Linked DNA regions of Homo sapiens. The protein of the gene in region 1 interacts with the protein of each later gene in a biochemical or structural test. Each region holds a gene or a part of one and is shown in the gene's direction. Other genes may lie near its edges. The genes, in order: LHX3, NFIB and IFT172.

The links.
Region 2: the proteins of LHX3 (region 1) and NFIB form a complex in vitro, tested with the Homo sapiens proteins (one study listed by BioGRID).
Region 3: the proteins of LHX3 (region 1) and IFT172 form a complex in vitro, tested with the Homo sapiens proteins (one study listed by BioGRID).

What each region holds. Positions count from the first base shown.
Region 1 is NC_000009.12:136,198,877-136,202,217, reverse strand, and holds part of LHX3 (LIM/homeobox protein Lhx3), read left to right. Parts: intron 1-190; coding exon of another isoform or gene 191-197; intron 198-543; exon of another isoform or gene 544-1,007; coding exon of another isoform or gene 1,008-1,053; intron 1,054-1,464; coding exon 1,465-1,636; intron 1,637-2,337; coding exon 2,338-2,540; intron 2,541-3,158; coding exon 3,159-3,310; intron 3,311-3,341. UniProt on the Homo sapiens protein: Transcription factor.
Region 2 is NC_000009.12:14,115,028-14,118,679, reverse strand, and holds part of NFIB (nuclear factor 1 B-type), read left to right. Parts: intron 1-2,333; coding exon 2,334-2,472; coding exon of another isoform or gene 2,473-2,499; intron 2,500-3,652.
Region 3 is NC_000002.12:27,448,198-27,451,849, reverse strand, and holds part of IFT172 (intraflagellar transport protein 172 homolog), read left to right. Parts: intron 1-1,753; coding exon 1,754-1,852; intron 1,853-2,049; coding exon 2,050-2,159; intron 2,160-2,287; coding exon 2,288-2,351; intron 2,352-2,469; coding exon 2,470-2,556; intron 2,557-2,818; coding exon 2,819-2,935; intron 2,936-3,652. UniProt on the Homo sapiens protein: Required for the maintenance and formation of cilia. Plays an indirect role in hedgehog (Hh) signaling, cilia being required for all activity of the hedgehog pathway.

The sequences.
Region 1 (3,341 bases):
TTATTTATTTATTTTTCGACGGTTCCTGGGAGGGGTTGGCCGCGGGGGCTGGGGGGCGGAGAGAGGGAGGGAGGAAGGAGGACTGCGCGCCCGCGCTCGGGAGAGCTGGCCGGAGCGGGCGGGCTGGCGTCCAGGCTCCGCCGACCCCGCCATCCCTGACACAGGAGCCCCCGCCAGGGCTGGAGTCGCCATGCAGCGTAAGGCTGGGGTCGCGGGCGCGGCGCGGGGTGGGCTGGGGCGGCTTTTGCCCGACGCGGGCGCCGGCGGCGAGCTGCGGCCGAGGCGCTGTCCGGTCCGCGGTGCTGAATCCGCGCTGTGTCGGCCTGTCGGGCCGCCCCGCTCCGAGCCGGGTCCTCGCCTGCGATCGCTGCCCACGATGGGGACCCCGGGCGCGCAGCGGGTCCTCGACGCTCCGCACCCGGAGCTGCGGTTTTGCCGGATGCGGGGCGCATTCATCGCCGGTTTCCCGCCACTGCGTGGGGAGGCGCAGCCCAGTTTTTTCCGCCGGAGGTCGAGGGAGCCCCTTCCTGGTGTCTCTCACCCACTGGGAGATGGGCTGGAGCCGGCGGGGTCCACAGCCAGGGAGGCGGGTGCAATATGTCAGTAAATCCCGGTCCCTTCAGCGGGCACTCCTCTCTTCCAGAGACTTTTTCTAAGTGAAGAGGGAGTCCTCAGCCCTTGACACCTGGAAAACCCGCTCACAGACTCGAGGCTCCCACAGGGCACCCTTGGACCTCCCCAGTGTGGTTCCTCCAGGGGGCCTGCAGTACCGAAGTGGGGTGTGGGGGGCAGAAGCAGCGGGAAGCCAGACGTTTGAGTAACTCTGACGGTGTTGGGGGCACCCACGCCTGACACAAAGGCAGTGGATCGGCTTGTCCAGTCCACTCATAAGTAATTTTGCGGCTGCCCAATGATGGGGAAGGCATTGATATTTACCCCGGAGGCCTGCAGACAGGGCCACCAGGCAGGGCAGCCACATTTGCGAGGAGTCCCTAGAAAGAGTGGCCATGACGCTTAACATGAAGGAGACCCGATGGGGTGCCCCAGCTCCAGGTGATGGTGAAGACCCGTTTCCCTATGTTTCCTGCCGGGCTTCAGAGAGCAGATCCCCCTGGGGTGGGGTTTTCATTTGAGCTCCACATGCACCCTTCTTGGCACTGGCAACATTTTGTAATTGAGTATTCAGCCTCGTGAAATGGCCTGGGCTGCTTTCTTGCTCACACACATTTTTAGACCGATGTCAGTTTCCCCTTAGCTCCTGACATAGGATGCGGTGCCTGCACACTCCCGGAACTTGCGGGGCCACTTAAGCTGGCTGGGGAAGAGGGTGTGTAGGGAAAGGAGGACCCCTCGGCAGCCCTGAGTCCTGTGGGCCGGAGGGGAGACTGGCTCGCGTTGGGGTGGGAAGGTGGCTTCACTGCCTCCTGGTCTACGAGGTGACCCAGAACTTCCTCGTGCCCACAGAGATCCCGCTGTGCGCTGGCTGTGACCAGCACATCCTGGACCGCTTCATCCTCAAGGCTCTGGACCGCCACTGGCACAGCAAGTGTCTCAAGTGCAGCGACTGCCACACGCCACTGGCCGAGCGCTGCTTCAGCCGAGGGGAGAGCGTTTACTGCAAGGACGACTTTTTCAAGTGAGCCCCGAAACCTCACCTCAGTGTGGGAGCGGAGGGCACGCCTGCCCCAGGGACTCCTCCCCTCACAATCACCAAGGCCAGGCCCTCGAAGCCTGCGTCTCTCGCAATCCCAGCCCACTCCTGTCACCCAGGCAGGGCACCCTGTGGCCTGGCCAAATTAAGGGTGGGGCCTCTCCATGGGTGCTCCCTGGGTGGCTGGGCCTGGCTGGGACATCAGCAAGTATTATTTGGAAAAAAAAGCAATTTATTACCTAAATCACAGAAGCAGTCATTAGAGAAGATACACCCCTATTTGTAGGATTCTACTGGACTTAGTTCCTCCGAAATTGGTGATGTTTTAGTTCCTAATGCTGGCACCCAGCGGCTCTGGCCCAGTGGCCTTCATGGCTCCAGCTGTGGGGTGTGAGGGACTGGCCCCAGATGGGTCCTCTCCCTCCGGATTCACCTTCCCAGATCCAGCATGGGTCCTGCAGGCAATGGCGGCTGGGCTCCCCGAGGTCTTTCTGAGATTGAGGTTCCCTTCTCAGTGGGAGTGGGCAGCTCTGCCCCGGCGGCCAGGCTGGCGACCACCCTGCAGGGCCGGACAGAGCCTTCCTCCGGGGCCGCCTTCCCAGGCAGCCGCTTGCCTCTCTCCAACCCGCTCGGGGCGAAATGAGCCTCGCGCTTCCGCGCTGAGCCCGGCCCTGTGCGTCCCGCAGGCGCTTCGGGACCAAGTGCGCCGCGTGCCAGCTGGGCATCCCGCCCACGCAGGTGGTGCGCCGCGCCCAGGACTTCGTGTACCACCTGCACTGCTTTGCCTGCGTCGTGTGCAAGCGGCAGCTGGCCACGGGCGACGAGTTCTACCTCATGGAGGACAGCCGGCTCGTGTGCAAGGCGGACTACGAAACCGCCAAGCAGCGAGGTCAGCCGAGGGGACGACGCTCCCACCTTTCCTGGTCTGAAAAAAATGGGGCTGAGGCCACGCCCAGGGGGGCGTCCGGGGAAATTCTCTCCCCAAGCGCTCACTAAGGGGGCCTGGGCTAGGGCGGTGTAGGCAGCAGGAAGCCGAGGCCGGGAACGGCGGAGTCACGGACAGACCCGCGTCCCGAACCGCTTCGTTCGGTCCGAAGTGTGCGGCTTTTCGCCCCTGGTCGGAATTATCGCCCTAAATTCTTGGCCGCGAAGGCTGGGCCATACCCACACCCTTAGAATAAAGGGGAGCCCGCGGGGAAATCAGGGTGCTTGGAGAAGGGAGCCAAGGCTGAAGGCGGGGGCGCCGTGGAGGTGCGATTTTAGGGAAGGCGCCGCCCCCGCCCCCGCGGCAGAACCCGCCCTCCGCCGGCGCCCCCTCCACCCCAGCCCGGGTGCTGCCCGTTTTTGCCAATCGCTCCCAGCGCCCGCGCCTTCCGAGAAGCCTGTGGGGCGGGATGGGGGTGGGCACCTGAGGCCCCGACGTCCCCGCGCCGGCCGGGGTGGGAGGGCTGGGGGTCCGGCCGGGGCCGGAGGGGCTGCCGCGCCTCACCGCTCGCCCGCCGCGCAGAGGCCGAGGCCACGGCCAAGCGGCCGCGCACGACCATCACCGCCAAGCAGCTGGAGACGCTGAAGAGCGCTTACAACACCTCGCCCAAGCCGGCGCGCCACGTGCGCGAGCAGCTCTCGTCCGAGACGGGCCTGGACATGCGCGTGGTGCAGGTCAGCGCTCGCCCCTGCTTCCCTCCCGCCC
Region 2 (3,652 bases), about 120 Mb from region 1:
TAGCTTCACCTTCAGACAAGACATCTCTCTTTTCTATCTACAGTATGAAAGTTCATCTATTAACAGCCTTAAAAGATAGAAATTTTTAGTGTAGCTTCATCTGTTTGAACCAGTAGAAAACTGAGGAGAAAATAGCCCTCAATTCTTCTCACCCTGAGTTTTAGGAAAGTTGTCTGCATTGACTTGGGAATTCTTTCTTTGTCACCTTTATTCTTTTCAAATGAGAGAAGTGTCTACTAGTTCATGTTGTTCAATTCCAGTAGGTGAAGTTTGTAGAATGGTCAGGGTAGGATAATATATTTGGTGGCAGCATTTCCTTGAAATTATTGTCATTCTGCTCCAGACATTTTGTTCCAGGTAGGTACTTTCAGACTGTTTTGGTGAACACTGTATGTAGAAACATTTTTACCATTGAATGTACCACCAATGATAAAATGAGACCTGTCTTCTTTCTTAAGATATTTAAAGCACTTATTTCCAGTGTTCAGATAACCAGAAATGGATGGCCTGCTGTAGAAACAAACTACTTTTTCCCTTTGAAAGGAAAAATGGGTCTTTATAGTTAACTGCAGATTTTTTTTTTAAGGAACAGTGTATCTGCTTTGATTTTTAACTCCAACTCAAAACCAATTAATTTGCATTTCAAATTAGAATTCTTGGTATTTACCATTTTAGCTTTAGAAATGGAAAAACATCAGTATTCCTTCACCATTCACTTCTAGTCAGCTGTTGCTTCCCAATATTCTCCAGCACTGCACTGATTTTGATTTTTAAGATAAGCAACTGAGATGCCTTTTCCTCCCCACAGCAATTTTGAGATTAATTGCATTACTGCTGCACCAATTATAGTGAGACAGTCATGCTATTCAATGGAATATTTTGAATAAAATTAGTTTAAAGATGTAACTCTCCCATAGGTTTCCATATTGGAAAACTCTGGTCAATTTTCCTGACATCAAGTTAAATACTTAAAATTACCCATGATGAATAATCAGGATATTCAGGAAGTCCATTTTCTTTATAGAATAAATAATGTGGCCTCTGAGGAGCCTAACCGAAGACTTAGTTCATGTCTCTAAGTCACAATATTTAAGTGTTATTAGCTGTTCATCTTTTTCTCTAAATAAATGTCTACTTGTAATTTATGTGCAGATATTTAGAAAAATATTCTGCTTCATTTTTTTTTTGCCTTTAACAGTTCAGATTATAAAGACTATATACTTGCCGAGAATAGCCTCCCAGCAAATTGCGATGAACACCGTGCAGTGGAGAATTCCAACATGGGTATAATCAAAAATAACATTCTCAGTCTAGAAAAATATATTCCACTATTTCTTCAAAGAGTGTATCCTTAGGATTTTGTTTCCTACCACGGAAACTATTTTTGTACCCAGGAGCTAAAACTCAGATAGTAACATCTTTTCTATCATTGCCCAGGGGATTTTCTCAGTTAATTCTCACAAATGTCAACAAGAAATGTTTTGTGTAACTCTCCATGCACCACCATGGATGTAAGAGTAACTCAAATAACAATGCTCATTTGCTTGTCCTCTGCTTCCCCTCAGTACAGTTTAATTTACTTTGGAAATCTTTTATTTGTAGGTGTAAGGACAAACGTAGCTCAGCATTTTATATCATTGTATGACCTCTGAAATTTTAGATGCTTTACATCTTATTCTATCTTCTTGTATTAGTAAATCATCAAAAGTTGACCATAGATCTCGGAATCTAAATTGCCTAATGTGTGCATCTCAGCACACCTGTGTGTAAGAGAGCTAGAGTTTTGTATGCAGGAGAATGGTTCTTGACTGTAAATGATGAAAATTCCAGAATTCGTTGTATTTGATCTCCTAGATATTTTTGTGTCCTTTGTTTCAGTGATATCATCATGTAGGTGAAAATTGTGTTCTAAAAGCCAAAACTGACTCATTATAGAAAATGAAGAGCAGAGAATAAGGAAGCATTGGGTTCCAACTGTAGCTAGTTCAGTAAGGAATTCCATTTTAGCCTTTGGGCTAAGCATTTAAGTCTGCACTTGAGTTTCTTGGCCTACTACATGAAAGGATCAAGTCTACCTGGCTCTCAGGGGTGCTGTAAAGAGGAATTCACCTATACCATGACGTGCTTTGAAGATGAAAACCTTCTTTGAAATGCTGCTGCTCCTTATTACTACCAACCATTGACTGGCCTCTCCGACTCCGACTCGAGAGGGCCTGTGTGGCGCCTATGCGCAGTGTGCTGGATCCACACAGTCGTGTGTGCTGAGTGGACTTGTTGAACAAGATGACTGCCTTTTGGATTGCTTCACCCGGCATTCTGTTTTTGTTTTGTAGCCTAACGGCAGTGGTCAAGTAGTAGGGAAAGTGCCTGGCCATTTCACTCCTGTCTTGGCACCCTCTCCCCATCCCAGTGCAGTGCGACCTGTGACCCTGAGCATGACAGATACTAAACCCATCACTACATCCACTGAAGGTGAGGCAGCTTCACCTACAGCAACCAGTAAGTATTTCCATAGGAAATGAGAAATGTCCATCAGAGGCACCATTGGATATCTGATCCAAGGTGGAAAACACGGCAATTTTTCCAGCTACCTGACCAGATGGAGATTTCTCATTTAAGTGGAGCTAGCAGGCATGGATGTGGCCCTGCTATCACAGGCTCTCTCTTCTCAAATTCCAGTCAGTGAATCATATTTGAAAAGGGAGAAGCTCACTTGTTTAAGTTAACAGCTATAACAAAAATAATAAGTCATGCCTGCTTGTTCAAGGTATACATTGAAATTGCACTGAGTAACATAACGCAGAATACAAAGTTTTCGTATCACCCAAAGAGAGATTAGGTAATTGGTACTTATTGGAGCATTCCTATAGAAATCAAGCCCCTTCACAAAGCAGATGGAATCAGTGCCTCTGTAAGGTAATTGCATGTTTACATCATTGTAGGTTATGTCATTGTTAAAAACAGTCGCATAAGGTTGGGAACAGATGAGGACATTTCAAAACTTAGTATTAGGCACATGTAAGCTACCTGTACTTTCACTATCTGCAAGCTTTTTTTTTAAAACCTTTTGATTATTTTGCTTATCATTGGTACATCAAATACTGTGCTTTTTAGTGTGGCCATAACATTTAAATGTCAGAGATTTAGCCAGTGAACCTTCCTAACACGTACCAATAAGCCGCATCATTCCTTTGTTTTTTCATGTAAAATACTTAGAAGTATAGAAGAAATTAATTTTGAGGTGGTTTCACCCAACTGTCAGCTTCTTAGTACTGGAGCTGGAATGTACAAATTGGTGAAGTAGAATGGATAAAGCTATCGAATTGGTGGAATTAGCATGCACCTCACCAATTATACAGATATCTTCAATTCAAACCTTTTTTTTTTCTTTCTTAGAGCAAGAAAATCCCCATGATCTTGAAATTTCCATGTGAATCAGAGACAATCAGAGGCATGCACCACTCATTCTTTCTCAGCCATTGGAAAGATGCTCTTTTTTTTTTATGGTTTCTGAAAGACTAGGAAGGAACCCTATAAGAAAAATGGACAATACTTTGTACAGTGAATTCAGCATTTCTTTCTCAAAATTCATGAGCCCCGTCAATTAATAAGTTCCTATAGGCTTGTAATACCCATCAGTAATTCTTAATGC
Region 3 (3,652 bases), on another chromosome or scaffold:
ATTCGTATGGTGATGCCCCTGCAAAATTTCCCTTAGGTTTTGAGGTTTTTTTGTTTGTTTGTTTATTTTGTTTGTTTGTTTTTTGAGACGGAGTCTTGCTCTGTCGCCCAGGCTGGAGTGCAGTGGTGCAATCTCGGCTCACTGCAAGCTCCGCCTCCTGGGTTTAGGCCATTCTCCTGCCACAGCCTCCTGAGTAGCTGGGACTACAGGTGCCCACCATCATGCCGGGCTAATTTTTTTGTATTTTTTTAGTAGAGACGGGGTTTCACCGTGTTAGCCAGGATGGTCTCCATCTCCTGACCTCATGATCCACAAGCCTTGGCCTCCCAAAGTGCTGGGATTACAGGCGTGAGCCACCGTGCCTGGCCTTTTGAGGTCTTAAAACTCAATAACCCCTAGAAGTTAGAGGGAGAGAAGTAGAAAGAGAGGGGCTGATGATTGGTTTTGAGGTTCTAGCAGATTTTAATCAGCAGTATTGAATAAGCATCTGATATATGTAACTTGGGAGCATGGCATGACTGTACCTTTTTCAGATTAGTCAGAAAATGGCTTCCTGATGCAGACAGGGCAGATTAAGCTTTGAAGGGCTTGGCAGTAAGAAAGGGAGGCAAGAACAGGTGAGGGAAAGACCAGAGGGGATTAGCATAAACTACAGTGAAATTGGATTGTGTGGAAATTGAAATCTGGTAAGGATGTCAGCATCATAATGGAAACAGAGTGATCTCATTGAACACTTGGGTTTGTAGAATTTCTGAGTTTTAAGTGTTGAAAGGTTATCATCAAGACCATCTATACCAGCACTGGCACTAGAAATATAATGCAGGCCACAAATGTAAGCCATACATGTCATTTAAATTTTCTAGTAGCCACATTTAAAAAGAGTAAAAAAAAAAAAAAACAGGTAAAAATAATTGTAATATATTTTATTTAACACAGTATATCTAAAATACACCATTTCATCTGGGCGCAGTGGTACATGCCTGTAATCCCAGAACTTTGGGAGGCCACGGTGGGCAGATCACTTGAGGATCAGGAGTTTGAGACCAGCCTGGCCAACATGGTGAAACCCCATCTCTACTAAAAATACAAAAATTAGCTGGGCATGGTGGTGGGTGCCTGTAATCCCAGCTACTCAGGAGGCCAAGACAAGAGAATTGCTTGAACCTGGGAGGGAGAGGTTGCAGTGAGCTGATATTGTGCCACTGCACTCCAGCCTGGGCGACATAGCAAGACTCTGTCTTAAAAAAATTAAATAAAATACTACCATTTCAACATGTACTCACACACATTATTTAGATATTTTCCATTCTTTTTTTATACTAAATCTTCAAAATCCAGTGTGTGTGAATGAAGAAACAAGTTCATAAAAGCCCAACACAAATAGTTACAGAATGCCCTGGACTCCTTATTTTAGGAGTCCTTTCTCTGTACTCTGCTACGAAGATTTTACTTATGACAAAGACCTTGAAAATGATTTTGTCAAAGGCGGAAGTTTCAAATGCAGTGACCTCAGGCAGCGCAGGAAGTATCTGAAAGAGTTAATGAACTGAGAGGAAAGATAGGTCCACTGATGGCTAATCAAAGGATCTAATGGACCATGAGCCAGGTTTTGCCCAGGAGGGTGCAAGGTTGAAGGGGAGAGTAAGAGAAAAAGTTGGCATCTGGAGGAGAAAAATGTATGAAATGGATGAGGCTGAGGACTCAGCGGTATTTGTCTCTCCTACCCATTTCCATCTTCTGTTCAACCACTCAGGCAGCTGAACTCTCCATCAAGTTTCTGCCTCCCCAACGTAATATGGAAGTCGTTCTGGCTGTAGGACCCCAGCTGATTGGAATTGGAAAGCACAGTGCAGTAAGTAGGATGCTGAGATGGAACAGAAATAGATTTCACAGAGATGGGTGCAAGGGTGACATCTACACCCAGGAAGGTGTGTGAGGTGGGCCTCCTGGTGGGCATGGCTTGCAGTCCTGGGGAAACAGATGGGAGAGCTCACAGTGGGAAGACTGGGAGCGAGGAGAAAGTCTCCACGCTGATTTCCCACTGTGCAGGCTGCAGAGCTCTATCTGAATCTGGACCTTGTCAAGGAAGCAATCGATGCTTTCATCGAGGGTGAGGAGTGGAACAAGGCGAAGCGTGTAGCTAAGGAGTTAGATCCCAGGTAAGCTTGTAACCCCTTCTTACTGCGAAATTCTCTTTTACTTCCTTTTGTAAAGACTGGGAGAAAGTCTTACCGGGAGGGTTGGTATTCTGGAACATGAAGATGGAGCTCTCTGAACATCTTCACAGGTATGAAGACTATGTGGACCAGCATTATAAAGAGTTCCTCAAGAATCAGGGCAAAGTGGACTCGGTGAGACTTGGAGAGTTAGCAGGAGGCAGAATGCAGGGAGAGACTCACAAGACTCTCTCCCTCTTCTTTCCCTCATGTCATCTCTTTTCTCTTGTAACTCTGTCTTCCATTGACCCAGCTGGTGGGTGTGGATGTGATAGCTGCTTTGGACCTGTATGTGGAGCAGGGCCAGTGGGACAAGTGCATTGAAACAGCTACCAAGCAGGTACTGCTCTCTTCCCATTCCCAGTTTTTCTTTACATTTTCCCTTGATTCCCCACCTGCCTCAAAGATGCATCTCTTCTACCTCCACAAAAACCCAAAGCCCAAAGATTTCTAATGGGCATCAGAGAAGCTCAGTCTGAAACTGGGGTCAGAGGTTTGCGTACACCCTTTTTCCCCTCAACAAATACATGGCCTCAAGTCACCTCACTGCTTGGTCTTGCCGATCCCAGCCTCACTCATGCTTTTCCTCCACCCCTGTACAGAACTACAAGATTCTGCACAAGTATGTGGCTTTGTATGCAACTCACTTGATCCGGGAGGGTAGCTCTGCCCAGGCATTGGCCCTGTATGTACAGCACGGAGCCCCTGCTAACCCACAGGTACCAGCCTTCTCCTTGGGTTGAATGTTTCCACAAGAAAGCTCTTTCTCCTCTAGAACCACCTATCTTCTCAGGAACTATCTTCTCAGAGGATTCTATCCTTAGAGAACGTCATGCCCAGAGCCCCCCACGCATCTCCAGAAATGTACAGCCTCTCTGGAGGCTGTGTATTTGCTAAGAGCATGGGGAGGTTTGCAGAAACTTCCAACTTCTGTTTGAAGAAACACCCGTGGAGCTCCCCATGCTGTTAGCAAATACACAGGCACCTGTCTTTCAGAGATGAATCCTGCATACACCTCTAGGGCCTTTATTGACTTCCTCCAGAGAATGAACACTGCTCCCTGATCTGAGTCACAATGTTGTGACTCTGCATTTACATTTGTACAGTTGCCCACACTCACACAGCACCAGCTAAGAAAGTTATTTCTTCCTCTTTTCTCTTTATCAAAAATAATCAGCACTTAAAAATAATTTACTTCATTAAAAATAATCAGCACTTAATAATCTGCCACTGTTGGCCGGGCGCAGTGGCTCACGCCTGTAATCCCAACACTTTGGGAGGCCGAGGCAGGCGGATTACGAGGTCAGGAGATCGAGACCATTGTGGCTAACACGGTGAAACCCCGTCTCTACTAAAAATATAAAAAGTTAGCTGGGCGTGGTGGCAGGCACCTATAGTCCCAGCTACTCGGGAGGCTGAGGCAGGAGAATGGCATG